Homo sapiens: one gene and its partners. The protein of the gene in region 1 interacts with the protein of each later gene in a biochemical or structural test. Each region holds a gene or a part of one and is shown in the gene's direction. Other genes may lie near its edges.

What was found.
Region 2: the proteins of G3BP2 (region 1) and SCN9A interact in a surface display test, tested with the Homo sapiens proteins (one large-scale study listed by IntAct).
Region 3: the proteins of G3BP2 (region 1) and SLC38A8 interact in a surface display test, tested with the Homo sapiens proteins (one large-scale study listed by IntAct).

What each region holds. Positions count from the first base shown.
Region 1 is NC_000004.12:75,648,135-75,653,806, reverse strand, and holds part of G3BP2 (ras GTPase-activating protein-binding protein 2), read left to right. Parts: intron 1-5,065; coding exon 5,066-5,168; intron 5,169-5,672.
Region 2 is NC_000002.12:166,368,359-166,372,944, reverse strand, and holds part of SCN9A (sodium channel protein type 9 subunit alpha), read left to right. Parts: intron 1-4,586. UniProt on the Homo sapiens protein: Pore-forming subunit of Nav1.7, a voltage-gated sodium (Nav) channel that directly mediates the depolarizing phase of action potentials in excitable membranes.
Region 3 is NC_000016.10:84,010,710-84,015,295, reverse strand, and holds part of SLC38A8 (solute carrier family 38 member 8), read left to right. Parts: intron 1-2,243; coding exon 2,244-2,295; intron 2,296-4,586. UniProt on the Homo sapiens protein: Electrogenic sodium-dependent amino acid transporter with a preference for L-glutamine, L-alanine, L-histidine, L-aspartate and L-arginine. May facilitate glutamine uptake in both excitatory and inhibitory neurons.

The sequences.
Region 1 (5,672 bases):
TGGTATTTGGGGTTTGGGTGTGTGAAATACAGATTAAGTTGGTTTTTACCAGTATATAATATTGTCATTTAAAAGGCTTCTTAAAATAACAAAAAGAATGTTCCTTTTTCAAAAGCTTCAAATTCTATTTAGCAAAAATATTTTAGGTAAGAAATTCGGAGAGGCACAAAGTAGTGTGGCGTAATAAAGAATCGTTTTTGTTTTTTTTTTTTTTTTTAAAGCAAAAAAAAAAAAAACCAGGAAACTTTTTAACATACGCTGCCTAAGCTCTCAGTGTGTAAGTGGTTCACACCACTTAATTGAAGCCTGTACCAACTTATGACTGTAGTGTTCACCTTAACTGATCATTCTAGTATTCTGCTTTTTGTCTGTTTGTCATCTTACCCATTTCAGAGCTTTCAAAAATGTGAAAATAAGACACTGCCTACCTAAGAAGTTTGTTAGATTTAGTTTAGAATGAACTAAATTCTAATTAAGTTTATCAGCATATAAAGGGTGTCCAATTTTTTCCCTACATTTTGCATTAAACTTCATTCCACTAGAAAATTTATGTTTGAAATGTTAGTATATAAATGTATCTTTTATATGTTCTAAGCAGTGAAATTTTGAGGTTTTAAAAGTAGTAATTTTTAGTTTTTTGGTGTTGGGACACATAATCAGCTACATAAAAGTAGAATACGCCCGTGATACTTTTTTTTTTTTTTCATTTGGGTATTCAGGCAATGCGTGGTTACCCTTATGTAAGATGGTCACCCAGAGTTCCATCTTAACAAAGGAAATTAGTTTGTGCAGTATTGTTTTGTGCTTTTCTACCCATATGAAGACCCAATAAATAACTTTTGGCCCTTCTTTTGGAATCTTCATTTCCTATCAGATTTGGATTTGGAACCTTTGGATTATTTCATTTCAGAGAGTTTAAACAGTTAAAAGTTAAAATAGCTAGTGCTTATGCCTTTGATATGCGCCAAGCATTGTGTGAAGCACTTTTTGTTCATTTTCAGTGAATCCTCACAACCACCCTGTCAGGGTGGGTACTATTGTTTCTGTTTTAGAGATCAAAAAATTGAGGTCTAGAGTAACTCACAGACATTTATGTACATAGTAGGGTTGGGCTTTGAAGTCATGCAGTGGGACATGAGTCCATATGTGGCTCATGTAAACGTTTATTTTTTTGAGACAGAGTCTCGCTCTGTCGCCCAGGCTGGAGTGCAGTGGTAGTGGCAGTGGCGTTATCTTAGCTCACTGCAACCTCCACCTCCCCAGCTCAAGTGATTCTCCTGCCTCAGCCTCCCGAATAGCTGGGATTGTAGGTGCCCGCCACCACGCCTGGCTAATTTTTGTATATTTAGTAGAGACGGGGTTTCACCATGTAGACCAGGCTGGTCTCAAACTCCTGACCCAAGTGATCCACCCGCATTGGCCTCCCAAACGGTGGGGATTACAGGCATGAGCCACTGCGCCCAGCCTCATGTAAACCTTATGCAATTCTCCAGCACCTTGCTGCAGAGTCATGTATCTTATCTGTATTTGCATCAAAGAGGACTCTTAAGACATGCCTGATTAAATCCTAGTCTCTTGCCCAGAAAAATACCTTCATATTTATCTCAAGTAGTTTGCCTTAAATATATTTTCAAAGTTAGTTGTAGGAAATGAAGTTGTATTTCCTATGCCACCCCTTTAATAAAACAAAAATTTTAAATGTTTAGAATTTAAACTTTAAAAGAACGTTCTAATGTCTTTAGGCTATACTTAAAATGGATTCATGATATTTCTACTTGATTTAATAATCCTTCAATTTTAGTTTGTTACTTTTGTGTAGTATTCATTTCCTTGTACTTTGAACATAGATTATTGATAAAAGGAAGTTAATTCCAGGGTATTGGTAGGCATTAACTTAGAAGTAGGTAAGTTAATTTCTTGAATAAAATATTTTGTCTGGAAATTGACTAGTTCACCTACAAAGCTTATGTTTAATTGAAGGGCTTATTATTTGTGGTTATACCTGCTTTTATTGACTTGATTTGATGGTTCTGTACTTACTTCATATTCTGTTTGACCTTCATTTGTGGGTTTGTCATTTGATCATACTTTCTGGTTGCATGGAATTAATTTTAAGGCCCTCTACTGTGTGGCATATTGGCCATGTTATCTGTTCAGAAAAACTAGTTTTAATCATGAAACTGGAGACCTGAAGAATTATAAGTATGCAGCTGACTTAGTTAACATATGTCAATCAGTTACTGAAAGGGACAGTGTTAGCTTTTTGTTCTTGTATTTTTCTTAAACTGGCATCATCAGATATCTACTTAAAGTCAGATTCCTAAATCAATGGCATGAATTATTTGTAAGATGTTGGAAATTATTAATATTTAACTTTATCTGTTTTTAATTTTCATCCTTAAAGAATAAGGAAGAACTTTATTTTGCTACTTGTAGTTACTCGTGTTTTGATAATCTGTTTTGAAAAGAATTTAAATCAGTCAAGACCAGGGCCTCAAGTTCTTTGATAACATTTGGATTGAATGAGTCTAAGGTTTTTCTTAAATTTTGTAATAAAGGTGCATTTAGTGTTTTTATTAATTGCCAGTAATACACTCACTTTATTAAACTTTGACAGAGTACGTTTATTCTCTAATTCTGTTTATATTCATACTGAAGTATGCCTTTAGACCCCCTTAGTTGAAGTTTCTAAATAACTGCCTTTTTCAGCATCACATTTTGCATCAAATTATTATATAGAATTAAACCCCAAATACAGATAGCGGTGGTCTCAGGGCTGTCACTTACGTATCTTTGTCAGACATAGAACATTATCCTGCATGTTTTGGGTCAGAGAACTAAAAATGTAATTTAATTTAAATGAACAAATAGTTACTGAACATCTGTGTCTAATAGCACTGTGCTTGGTTCTTTGGGTGATGTAAAAGTAAGTTAAGATATGGGCCTTGGGCACTGGCGTGCCTGTAGTCTCAGCTGCTTGGGAGGCTGAGGCAGGAGGATCACTTGAGCCTAGGAATTTGAGGTTACAGTGAGCTATGATTGTGCCACTGCACTCCAGCCTGGGCAATAGAGTAAGACTGTGTCTCTCTAAAAAAATAAAAGATACAGACTTTATAGGAGTAAATACATATAAATAACAACAAAACCTGGAGAGAGTTAAAAATATTCATTTTATAACTAGTAGAATTCTAGAATATGGTAAGCAACTTCATCTTGAGGGAAATAGGACATTGACATAGAGGAAAACAGAATTTAGGAAGAGGCAGGCAAACTTGGTTAAACTGTTAGCATAGGAGTTAATATTCCTTTTGGTTACAGTGGCTGAAATCATTTACATTAAATTGTCATTTTTGAAAGAAGCTTTTTTTTTTTTTTTTTTTGAGATGGAGTTTCTCTCTTGTTGCCCAGGCTGGAGTACAATGATCTGCTCACGCAACCTCCGCCTCCCAGGTTCAAGTGATTCTCCTGCCTCAGCCTCCCTAGTAGCTGGGATTACAGGCATGTGCCACCACACCCGGCTGATTTTGTATTTTTAGTAGAGACAGGGTTTCTCCATGTTAGTCAGGCTGGTCTCGAACTCCCGACCTCAGGTGATCTGCCCGCCTCGGCCTCCCAAAGTGCTGGGGTGATAGGCATGAGCTACTGTGCCTGGCTGAAGGAAGCATTTTTGTGTCAGAATTTGTCCTTGTAAATTACAATATCTGTTATATAAATGATTAAAGAGTTTGAGCCGCTGCATGGACTGAGGTCCTCAGAGATGACCACTTTTTTATTTATTTACTTATTTATTTCTGTGAGAAGGAGTTTCACTCTTGTTGCCCAGGCTGGAGTGCAGTGGCGTGATCTTGGCTCACTGCAACCTCCGTCTTCCGGGTTCAAGCGATTCTCCTGCCTCAGCCTCCCAAGTAGCTGGGGTTACAGGTGCCTGCCACCACACCCAGCTAATTTTTTGTATTTTTAGTAGAGACTGGGTTTCGCCATATTGGGCAGGCTGGTCTCAAACTCCTGACCTCAGGTGATCCGCGCAGCTTGGCCTCCCAAAGTGCTGGGATTACATGGAGATGACCATCTTTAAAGATGGGACTGAAATTACTAGCTTTCTGAGTTGAGGACATGTTCTCCATATCCTGTTGGGTGTTTTCAGCATCCTTTGTAGGCTCATATATTTGTCTCTCCTTGGACCATAAATATTTGGGTAGTAGAAGGTCTGAAGAGGTTGGGAATACTGAAAATGCTGTTGTCTTGAGGAAAAGGTAATAGCAGACGCCGATGTAATTTTGTTTTAAAAATAATTATATGTTTAATTCAGCAGTTGGCAGAAACTTTTGGGAGGCATCTTAAACTGTCCTATTACTCCCAGACCCCTAGTTAAGGAAAATCGTTGGGACCAATACTTCAAATGCATATTTTTCTCATAAGGAAGAACAGTAGGGAGCTAAAGGACTTTAACTATTTGAGATGCTACATACAAGTTCCTATAAGTTTCTGTCATTTTTTTAACATGCATTTTAACCTTACAGGTAGCAATTTCAGGTGTTAGAGCAAGCTAATTTTTATACTTTGAACTATAAAAATACTGATTTTAAGGTTATGGGCAGAGATTTAGGCAATACTACTGAGCACTGTTACATTTGAAGGATAGCAAATTAGATTTTCAGAAATTATGTGTTATGTATTCTTGTCTAAGATGAAGATGGCTTTTAATTTTGTTTATGTATTTACATGGAGTGGTTCATCTTGCATTTTTGTGATTTTTTTTTTTGGTAGCAATACCTTTTATGCTATTTCAGTGTTGATATAACTTTAATGAAAAAATGTGACTGTAAAAAGCAACTTATTGTGAGTTACACAGCATTAAGTGGGAAAACAAAAGCTACCTACAGTCCTAGATTGGTACAGAATATCTTGATAAAAATTTATTTTTCTCATACATAGGACACTATGTTAAAAACATTCTAAACTTAAAACTACTGTTATGTCTGCTAGTGACTTGTCGTTAGGTGCTTTGGTTGGTTTTTCTCCAGTGGAGTGTTTTTTATAATGTTTTTTTTTCTTTATATTTTAGCCAAGAGTCGAAGCTAAACCAGAAGTTCAATCTCAGCCACCTCGTGTGCGTGAACAACGACCTAGAGAACGACCTGGTTTTCCTCCTAGAGGACCAAGACCAGGTGAGTCAGCTCCTTTATAGCCTTTAGCATTTAACATTTGTAAGGCTGTAAAAGACTGAACTTAAACAAAAAACTATGATGCGTTCTATACACAGACCCATATAGTCTCAAATTGCTTAAAGATGTGATGTGAGCAACCTGCTAAATAGTGTCTGGGGCCAAATAACCAATTTTTAGGGAGGATTGGTTGACATGCCATGGTGACATATTTTGAAGGTGTAAAAGACTTAAGTCTTATTTGGTTATTGTCACGGTTTTTTGTTTTTTTTTTTTGTTTGTTTGTTTTTTTTTTGAGACGGAGTCTTGCTCTGTCGCCAGGCTGGAGTACAATGGCGTGATCTCAGCTCACTGCAACCTCTGTCTCCCGGGTTCAAATGATTCCCTTGCCTCAGCCTCCCAAGTAGCTGGGATTACAGGCACACGCCACCAGGCCCAGCTAATTTTCTGTATTTTAGTAGAGACAGGGTTTCACCATGTTGGCCAAGATGGTCTCGATCTGCTGAC
Region 2 (4,586 bases), on another chromosome or scaffold:
CATACTGCTTGTTACAGCATGCAGGTATTTTGTGAATTTGCATACCAAATACTCCAAGGGAACCCAGACTATGTCTTCATTGTTGACTTAGCTTCCAGAATAGTGCCTGGCATCAAGTAGTAGGGGGTTCGTAGATATTTATATAAATAATAAAATACAAAAATATGGATTCTTCCAGAATAAAGCATATTAACCCTGGAAACATGAATTTTGTGATTCTATTTTTTATTTGTCAAGCATTTAGTATTTTTACAATATCATGGTATGATATTGAGGAGGTAAAATTAAAATATCCTGAGATGTATTCTCTCTTTTATCAGTGTAGGTGATAATGTACTTAAAGGTAAGTAATTTGTAATGCATTCTTAGAAAGGCAGTGACCACAAATGTATTAAAATATATTTTAAGAAAAAATTGGATTGCATAAACTAATATGGTTATAAGTGACTCCAAATCTAAAATGATAACCTTGTTAGGTTTAAATCTGTATCATCTAACAGAAATTTGAGGGCCAGTCAATAGTCACTGACTATGAATTTAAAATATTCTTTTAAAATAAACATAGATGCTTATGTGAGCTCAGTTGATAGAAATGTAGTCAGATGAGGCGGAGGCCATAAGTTAGGTTTCCACACGGTCTAAATTGATGTTTGCCCCAGGTACAAAGGGCACATTATCCAAATATTTGAAGCATTCTCTAAGGAAGGTTCAGAGAGGCAATGTGGGCTTATCCATGAAGACCCATCACTGTTATTAGAGTGGAAGTAAGGACTGCAAACTTCATGCTCATAAATGATTGTGTCATTTTCATACTAGAATTTTACCACACACACACTCACACTCACACACACACACACACACACTTTGTATGGTGATTTGCCTCCCCCCTTTATTTTTGCAGACTATGCTTAAAGATATTAAACAAACAACTAGTTTTGCTATTAACATTTGGTTGAAAATTTAGCTTTCAATTAGGTGACAAACTGATTAATGATTTTTTTATGTAGCAAATGGCCAGCCACAGATTTTTGGTAAATAATTTGGTTACCACATTACATCTTGAAGGACTAAATTATTTCACTAATTGTGAGCAGGGATTTTTAAAAATTTGCTCTGAAGAGGACATATTGTGGATGTTGTATTGGAGGGCATCTGTGTACTAATTGAAGATGGTCCTTCATATTACACATCACAAATTAGCTAATTTATTCTTTACAGAAGTATTATGACATCTTCCTTTAGAACTGTGTAGAGTTAGATTACCACTTGAGAGGCAAGGTCATATTAAAATAGATATTATAAAATTGTATAAAAATATTTTATATGAGGATTTATGAGAGCATCCAGAGAATGTGGGTAGAATACTTTTGTGGAATATGAGATAACAATTTTGGTGTCCTGCCATTCTAAAAAATGAAATTTCTTCATTGAAGGTATCACTTACCCTTTCCTCTGCCTTGCTGGAAGGAAATGGCTTTAGGCAAAAGAAAAAGCCATCAGCTCTTGGCAGCTAAAGGTGGAATGAAGTTTGGAGGAATGAAACCCTTCTGGGTGGTGAGGAAAAATGCCAGGCCATGATAAAGTGGGGAAGGAAGAGGGGAATGCCTTGAACAGTGCCAGTAAGCATAATCTGCCACAGACAAGTTTGAATTGACATATGTAGAACTGAATTATTCTATATCTTTTTAGTTCTATAGAGAAAACCGTTCTTTCCACGTCTCTTTTTAAAATAACAACTTACTGTAAGCAAAAAATATGTTGTTGTTGTTTCTTTAACACAGGAGATGAACTATCTTTAGATTTTTTAAAGTGATATAACATGGAGCCAAAAATGCCATATATTACTGTTGAAACCTAACGTTACTTTAACTGTAATTTCCTTGCTATTCATTTTATGATTTCCTCTTGTTATGTCAAGTGTTAGAGAGACTGCTATTACTGATCATAAATTTCTTTAAAATGTCTCCTTGGATTTTTTACAAAGCTTTCTGAATCATTTATCAAAATACAATAAAGCTCTAATTGCACCTAGGATTGTTCACTTGGAAATTTAGAAAGAGTGTGTACATTTACAATTAAGTTAGCATCCTGCCCTGCAATGAATGCCCTTTTTCTTTTTTTTTTTCCTTCTTCTCTCCTACATCTCATCTTCCAAATGTTTGATATGTACGCCAGTAAGGCAAATTTTACTCCACTTTTAGGTCAAACTATTAGTACAAATAATTGGAAAATTGAGCCTCTAAAGAAAGATAAATAAGATTAGAAGCATGCATTAAAATATAAGTATTAAAAACATTCCCATAAGATTTTTAATAAAAATTTTATGTGCTATATGCACACCTAGACTCCCTGTATTATCTGATTTTTAAAGATTCTTTTTTTTTTTTATTTTTTATTTTTTTGAGACGGAGTCTCGCTCTGTCGCCCAGGCTGGAGTGCAGTGGCGCGATCTTGGCTCACTGCAAGCTCCGCGTCCTGGGTTCACACCATTCTCCTGCCTCAGCCTCCGAGTAGCTGGGACTACAGGCGCCTACCACCGTGCCCGGCTAATGTTTTTGTATTTTTAGTAGAGACGGAGTTTCACCATGTTAGCCAGGATGGTCTCAATCTCCTGACCTAGTGATCCGCCCGCCTCGACCTCCCAAAGTGCTGGGATTACAAGCATGAGCCACCGCGCTCAGCCCATTATCTAATGATGATGATGATGATTATTATTATTATTATTATTATTATTATTATTATTATTATTATTTTAACTGGGGGTAATTTCACTGGATGTGGTATCTGTCAACTTTTACTAGTTGCTCCTACACTATATGTTTTTAAATCCAATGTAATTATTTTAAAAATATGTCATCTTCTTGAGAGTCTATACTTTAGAATTTGAAAAAAGAAGTAAATGTAGATATTCAAATCCATGCAGATGAGTAAAACAGGGAAAAATGAGAAAAATGTTTCATGATAATAAAATATTATGTCAGGCACAGCTGGTCACCCCTGCAATCCCATCACTTTGGGAGGCCGAGGCTGGAGGATTGCTTGATCCAGGAGTTCTAGATCAGCCTGGGCAATAAAAGGAAAATCTGTTTCTACAAAAAAATTAAAATTTATATTTCATATATTGATTTAAGCTCTACTAAATGACTATTCTTTCAAGTCTAATAGACAGTGTATCTTTTAGGGCTCAGAGTAAAGATAATTTATTGAGGACATTTTGAATAGGATGAATTAAATGCTTTATTGGTAAGTGATGCCTTTATCTGAGTGATTCCTTCTAGGTAAATATTATGGGACCAATCTTTGTAAATGATCTTTGCATGGAACAAAATATTATAAAGTTGAAGTGATGAATTTGTTTCCCTCTTAACAAAATATGTATTCTTGTTACCCCATTTACAAACTTGGCTCATGGTAATTCAGGTAGGAAAAAGGGAAGTGGCCTACTCAGGGATCAACTGGGAATAAGGTTCTTATAATCCCATGAGATCAGCTGACAGACTTTTAGGAATGAACACTTGTAGAACAGCTAGGCAGAGAAGTGCCTTTCAAAATTTATATTACATCTCTACTATATTTCAGACTGTAAAATATTTTTATAAAGTGTTAAAAGCACAGATAAATAAATTTGAGTTCAAATTAGTATAGTGAAAGGAAGTTTATTTTTCCCAAATATTTCCTTTACTCAGTATGTGGTCTTAGTCAAATATTAATTTCTTAAATATTGCTTTCCTGTAAATTAGTAGTATTTACTTCTAAGGACTATATTATATGTTATATATAGAGTATATTATATATTAGGAGATATATATGTATATACATCGTAATTTGTTTTTTCCAAAACAGCCACTTTAGTGTCTTACACATGATAAGTAGATATGAGTAGATGTTCAATAATGGTATCTAGGCATTTAATAACTTAGAATATTATAATCAAAATGCATTCTTTTTTTTTTTTTTGAGACCGAGTTTCACTCTTGTTGCCCAGGCTGGAGTGCAATGGTACGATCTTGGCTCACTGCAACTTCCGCCTCCCAGGTTCAAGCAATTCTCCTGCCTCAGCCTCCCGAGTAGCCGGGATTACAGGCATGAGCCACCTCGCCTGGCTAATTTTGTATTTTTAGTAGAGATAGGATTTCACCAGGTTGGGCAGGCTGGTCTTGAACTCCTGAGTTCAGGTGATCTGCCCGCCTAGGCCCCCCAAAGTGCTGGGATTATAGGCGTGAGCCACCATGCCCAGCCTCTTTTTTTTTTTTTTTTTAATTAAGTTTCAAGGTACATTTGCAGGATGTGCAGGTTTTTTACATAGGTAAAGGTGTGCCGGTTTCACTCTGTTGCCCAGGCTGGAGTGCAGTGGTACGATGTTGGCTCGCTGCAACCTCTGCCTCCCAGATTCAAGTGATTCTCCTGCCTCAGCCTCCCAAGTAGCTGGGATTACAGGCATGTACCACCATGCCCGGCTAATTTTGCAGTTTTAGTAGAGATGGGGTTTCACCATGTTGGCCAGACTAGTCTCGAATTCCTGACCTCAGGTGATCTGCCCACCTCGGCCTTCTAAAGTGTTGGGATTACAGGTGTAAGCCACTGTG
Region 3 (4,586 bases), on another chromosome or scaffold:
GGGATGCTTCTTCCAGTGGAAAAGGGTACACTGTAGTGGCCCACTGGAGCCCAGAACAGAGACTCCAGATCCGCAGTGGGGGGTGTGTTCCAGGGCCCCACACACAGCAAGTGTTGAGTACACAGTCGAGACTCCCTCAGTGCGTGTTCCGTGAGTGGACCCTGTGATTCAGCCGCGACTGGAACCATGCCAAACAGACATCGAGCTTGGGGACCCTTAGCCAGGTATCCCCAACACCCTGATGCAGCCGTTATGTCAAACAGACAAGAAGTAGATGCCCATTGGTGAAACTTAACAGAAAGCACAGGTAGAGGCTCTTACAGGTCTTCCAAAACTCGAATGGGGGCATGAAACGAAACATTGTTCAGGGTCCCAGGTAAGTGGGTGGTGACAACTTTGTCAATACCCCGGAGGTGGGGGGGCGATGGAAGAATTGAGGGCCACAGAGAAATGTTGGTTATCAAAGAGGCCAACTGATGTGTGGAATATGAAAAGTGGGTTCTTAGCAGGTGAATTAAGATTCAGGGGTTGTCTTTGATGTAGTCCCTTGAGAATCTAACCGTACCTGCCCCAGCTCCCGTAAATTGGGGTCTACTGGGATTAAGAGATAAAGACTGGGGAAGTGAAGTGAAGGGAGGGGAGGAGAACAGCCACCCACTCTGCTCCTGGCTCTGCCCAGAGCTCTCAGAGGTGAGGGGAGTGGCCATGTGGCTCCTCCCTCAGGTTCTGGGTGGAACTTTTAGAGAGGAGAGGGGTGTGGCCATGTGGCTTCTCCCTTGGGCTTAGGGTGGCGCTTTCACAGGTGAGGGTGTGGCTATACAGCTCCTCCCTCGACTCTGGGCAGGGCTTTCAGAGGTGAGGGGTGTGGCCACACAGCTGCTCCTGCATGCTCTGAGCGGAGCTTTCATTGATGGGGATGTGGCCACACGACTCCTCCCTCAGTTCTGGGCCGGGCTTTCAGAGGTGAGGGTGTGGCCACGCAGCTCCTTATTCAGGCTGTGGGCGAGGCTTTCAGAGGTGAGGGGTGTGGCCTTGTGGCTTCTCCCTCGGGCTTAGGGTGGAGCTTTCAGAGGTGAGGGTGTGGCTACACAGCTCCTCCCTTGGCTCTGGGCGGGGCTTTCAGAGGTGAGGGGTGTGGCCACATAGCTCCTCCCTCAGGCTCTGAGAGGAGGTTTTAGAGGTGAGGGGTGTGGCCATGCATCTCCTCCCTCAGCTCTGGGCGGGCCTTTCAGAGATGAGAGTGTGGTCACACAGCCCTTCCCTCAGGCTCTGGGCGGGGCTTTCAGGGCTGAGGGTGTGGCCACACGGCTCCTCACTCAGGCTCTGGGTGGAGCTTCTCAGAGGTGAGGCTGTGGCCACGTGGCTCCTCCCTCACACTCCCTGGTCTGGGCTGTTAGATTAAATTCTGATGCTGTGACCAGGTGGCCAGTTGTAGCGCTGGCTATTTCCTGTGGTGGGAAGGACTGCCCAGGACAGGTTTGAGTTGAGAGAGGATCCTTTGGGAGCTTTAGGCCAAGCTACATGGCCCTGAATCCTAGCAGAACTATTTAAAAAAAAAAAAAAAAAGGGCTGGGTGCAGTGGCTCATGCCTGTAATCCCAGCACTTTGGGAGGCCAAGGCGGGCGGATCACGAGGTCAAGAGGTCCAGACCATCCTGACCAACATGGTGAAATCCCGTCTCTACTAAAAATACAAAAATGAGCGGGGTGTGGTGGCACGCACCTGTAGTCCCAGCTACTCGGGAGGCTGAGGCACGAGAATGACTTGAACCCGGGAGGTGGAGGTTGCAGTGAGCCGAGATGGTGCCACTGCACTCCAGCCTGGCAGCAGAGTGAGACTCCGTCTCAAAAAAAAAAAAAAAAAAAAAAAAACACACACACAACAAAAGAAAGTAATGGTAGCTGCCAGTTGCCGAGCACTTCCCGGGTGTCAGGCATGGACTCTCACCATCTCCTCATAGACTCTGCTGTGGGGGGGCATGTTGTCAAGGTTGCCTGAAAGATGGGGCTCTGGGAAGTCGGTTGCTGCCAGACCTCTGCCTAAGTCATTAGGGCATGTTGAGCTGGGACTCCAGCCCCGTCCTTCCAGCTCCACTGTGTTGCCTCTCCAGGGGGCCTGAGCCAGGGGCACCCATGGGCGGAGGCCTTGCTGGCCTCCTGGGTCCCTGAGGACCTCTCCCGGGACCTTTTTGTTGCTTTGGGTTTGATAACGAAGAACTGTGGGTGACCCTGTCTTTTTTGCAGGTTTGTGCCTCATCTGTGCAATGGGTGTCGAGCCTATAGGACCAAGAGTCAAGTAAGTGTCCCTAAGATGAGGTGGCACCCTGGGTGTGCCCCGGATCAGAGTAAGAATGTTTCAGGGGACCCTGCAGATCCTATTTCTCATCCTCTGCATCCTGCAGGTGAGAAACCTGCGAGCCACAGGAAGAGAGTCTCTGTCTACCCAGTATGAGGGCATCTGAGCCAGGATAGGAGCCCGGGCCAGTAACACCGGGTCCTCCAAGGGCCTTCCCTTCCACTCTGAGGGTCTGTGGTTGGGATTTCATGTAGATTCCAGCCTCTGGAAGCACCCAGTGGTGCATCTGTACCCTCCTTTGTTACCTGGCTCGGACCCAGGGCAGGATCAGGGTGCAGGCTGGGTTAGAAAGGCCCCATGGCCGGCCAGACACCATCATCACAGCAGTGGGTCGCTGTTCCCAGGCTCCTCTGCTAGGCACTGAGCTAGGTCCTTTTACATGTTCACCTCCCCACCATACCCACATGTCTTCATCCTACAGCTGAGGAGGCGGGCCCGGATGCTAGTGAGGACAGAGCTAGGATGCAACCCAGGCCCCTGGCTCCCAGGCCCCATGCTAACCCACCTGCCTGGCATACAATGCTGTTGAGACCAGATAATTTGGATCTTTCCTTCATTTGACAAATATTTATCCCCGAGCGGACCTGTGGATCAGACACGACTGAGCCTCTGTACTTTGCCACTGAGCAGCTGAGTCTGACCCACGGAAGAGGACGATGTACACGTGAATGATGTGCGCTTCCTCAGCCGCCCCTGGGTAGTCTGGGGTTCTGGGTGACTCCCTCCCATCCCATAGATGGGGAAACTGAGGCTGAGGCAGGTAAAGAGATGATGTATTAGTTTTATGGGGTTATTGTAACAAATTACCATAAATTGGGGCATGGTGGGGAGGCTTAAAGCAACAGAAATGAATTTTTTCCCCAGTTCTGGAGCCAGGAGTGTGAAATCAAGGTGTTGGCAGGGCTGGACTCTCTGAAGGCGCCTCAGCTTCTGGTGGCCCCAGGTGCTCCTTGGCCTGTGGCTACATCACTCCAGTCTCTGCCTTTATCATTATTTAGCTTTCTCCCTGTGTCTCTGCGTCTCAGAAATCCCTCTGCTTTTATTTATTTTAGTTTTTGAGACAGAGTCTTGCTCTGTTGCTCCGGCTGGAGTGCAGTGGCGTAATTGTGGCTCACTACAGCCTCAACCCCCTGGGCTCAAGCAATCCTCCTGCCTCAGCCTCCTGAGTAGCTGGGACCACAGACGCCCACCATCACACCTGGCTGCCTTTCTTTTATAAGGATACCTACCATCAGATTAGGGTCCACCCTAAATCTAGGTTGTATCTTCTCTCAAGATCTTTTCCTTAATTACATCTGCAAAACCCAGTTTCCAGATAAGCTGGCAAGCACAGGTTCCAGGTAGACATGAATTTTGGGGGCCACCCTTCACCCCATCCCAGATAATGTTAAATGGCAGCAATCGTGAATTTGGGTGCCAGCTGTAGGTCTGTTCCCCTATACCCCCGGCCCTCTAGCCCCATTGAGCCCAAGCTTGGTTTTTGCAAAGGAGCAGGCCTGGCCCGGTTTCTTCTGGATTTGAGAGCAGTGTTTCTGGATGTTTCTAAACCTGCCTTGGGTATTGAACCAGCCTCCCAATGTCTGGTAACCCCCTAAGCCGCTCATTCCCTGGGATGCTTTTCGGAGTCTTCATGCTTTTTGTTTTGTTCCTTGATCTGAGCTCACAACAGTTTTTACTGATGAGCTTTCAAGATATTTTTATCGTTAAAACTGCTTTGGGTCCTTCTAATACATCAGCGCTGCTCCAGGAGTGCCACAGCCCACAGGCACATTAGCCTCACAGTCCCCGCACAGATGAATGGATGTTTATGGCGCTGAACAGCCGTGCTGAGATGCTGCTCGGTTAGAAATGTTCCTTCCATGACAACCCGGCCTTCTGGTCTTTGTTAATGGGGCCACAAATATCTCTGGTGGCCCTGCCATTTTGTGGGAATCTTGTTATCGCTCTGACCTCCTTGTCTACCCCATCTCTGGTTACATGACGAAGCTCACAAATGTGGCCTCGGTGGCTGCCAGTCCCAGCCACCTCTGCCTCCTGCGTCCTCGTCCCCTACCCCTCTGAGATCGTGTGTGACTTAGAGCTTGCGTCTTCTCCTTCATTTTCATGGGATTTCATCAGAGGCTGAGGAACAGAAAGGGAGGGTGGGGGGACTTTTCAAAGTAGTGTCTCCCTTCTCTCCATGTCTTTTTCTCTTTTTGAGATGGAGTCTTGCTCTGTCCTCCAGGCTGGAG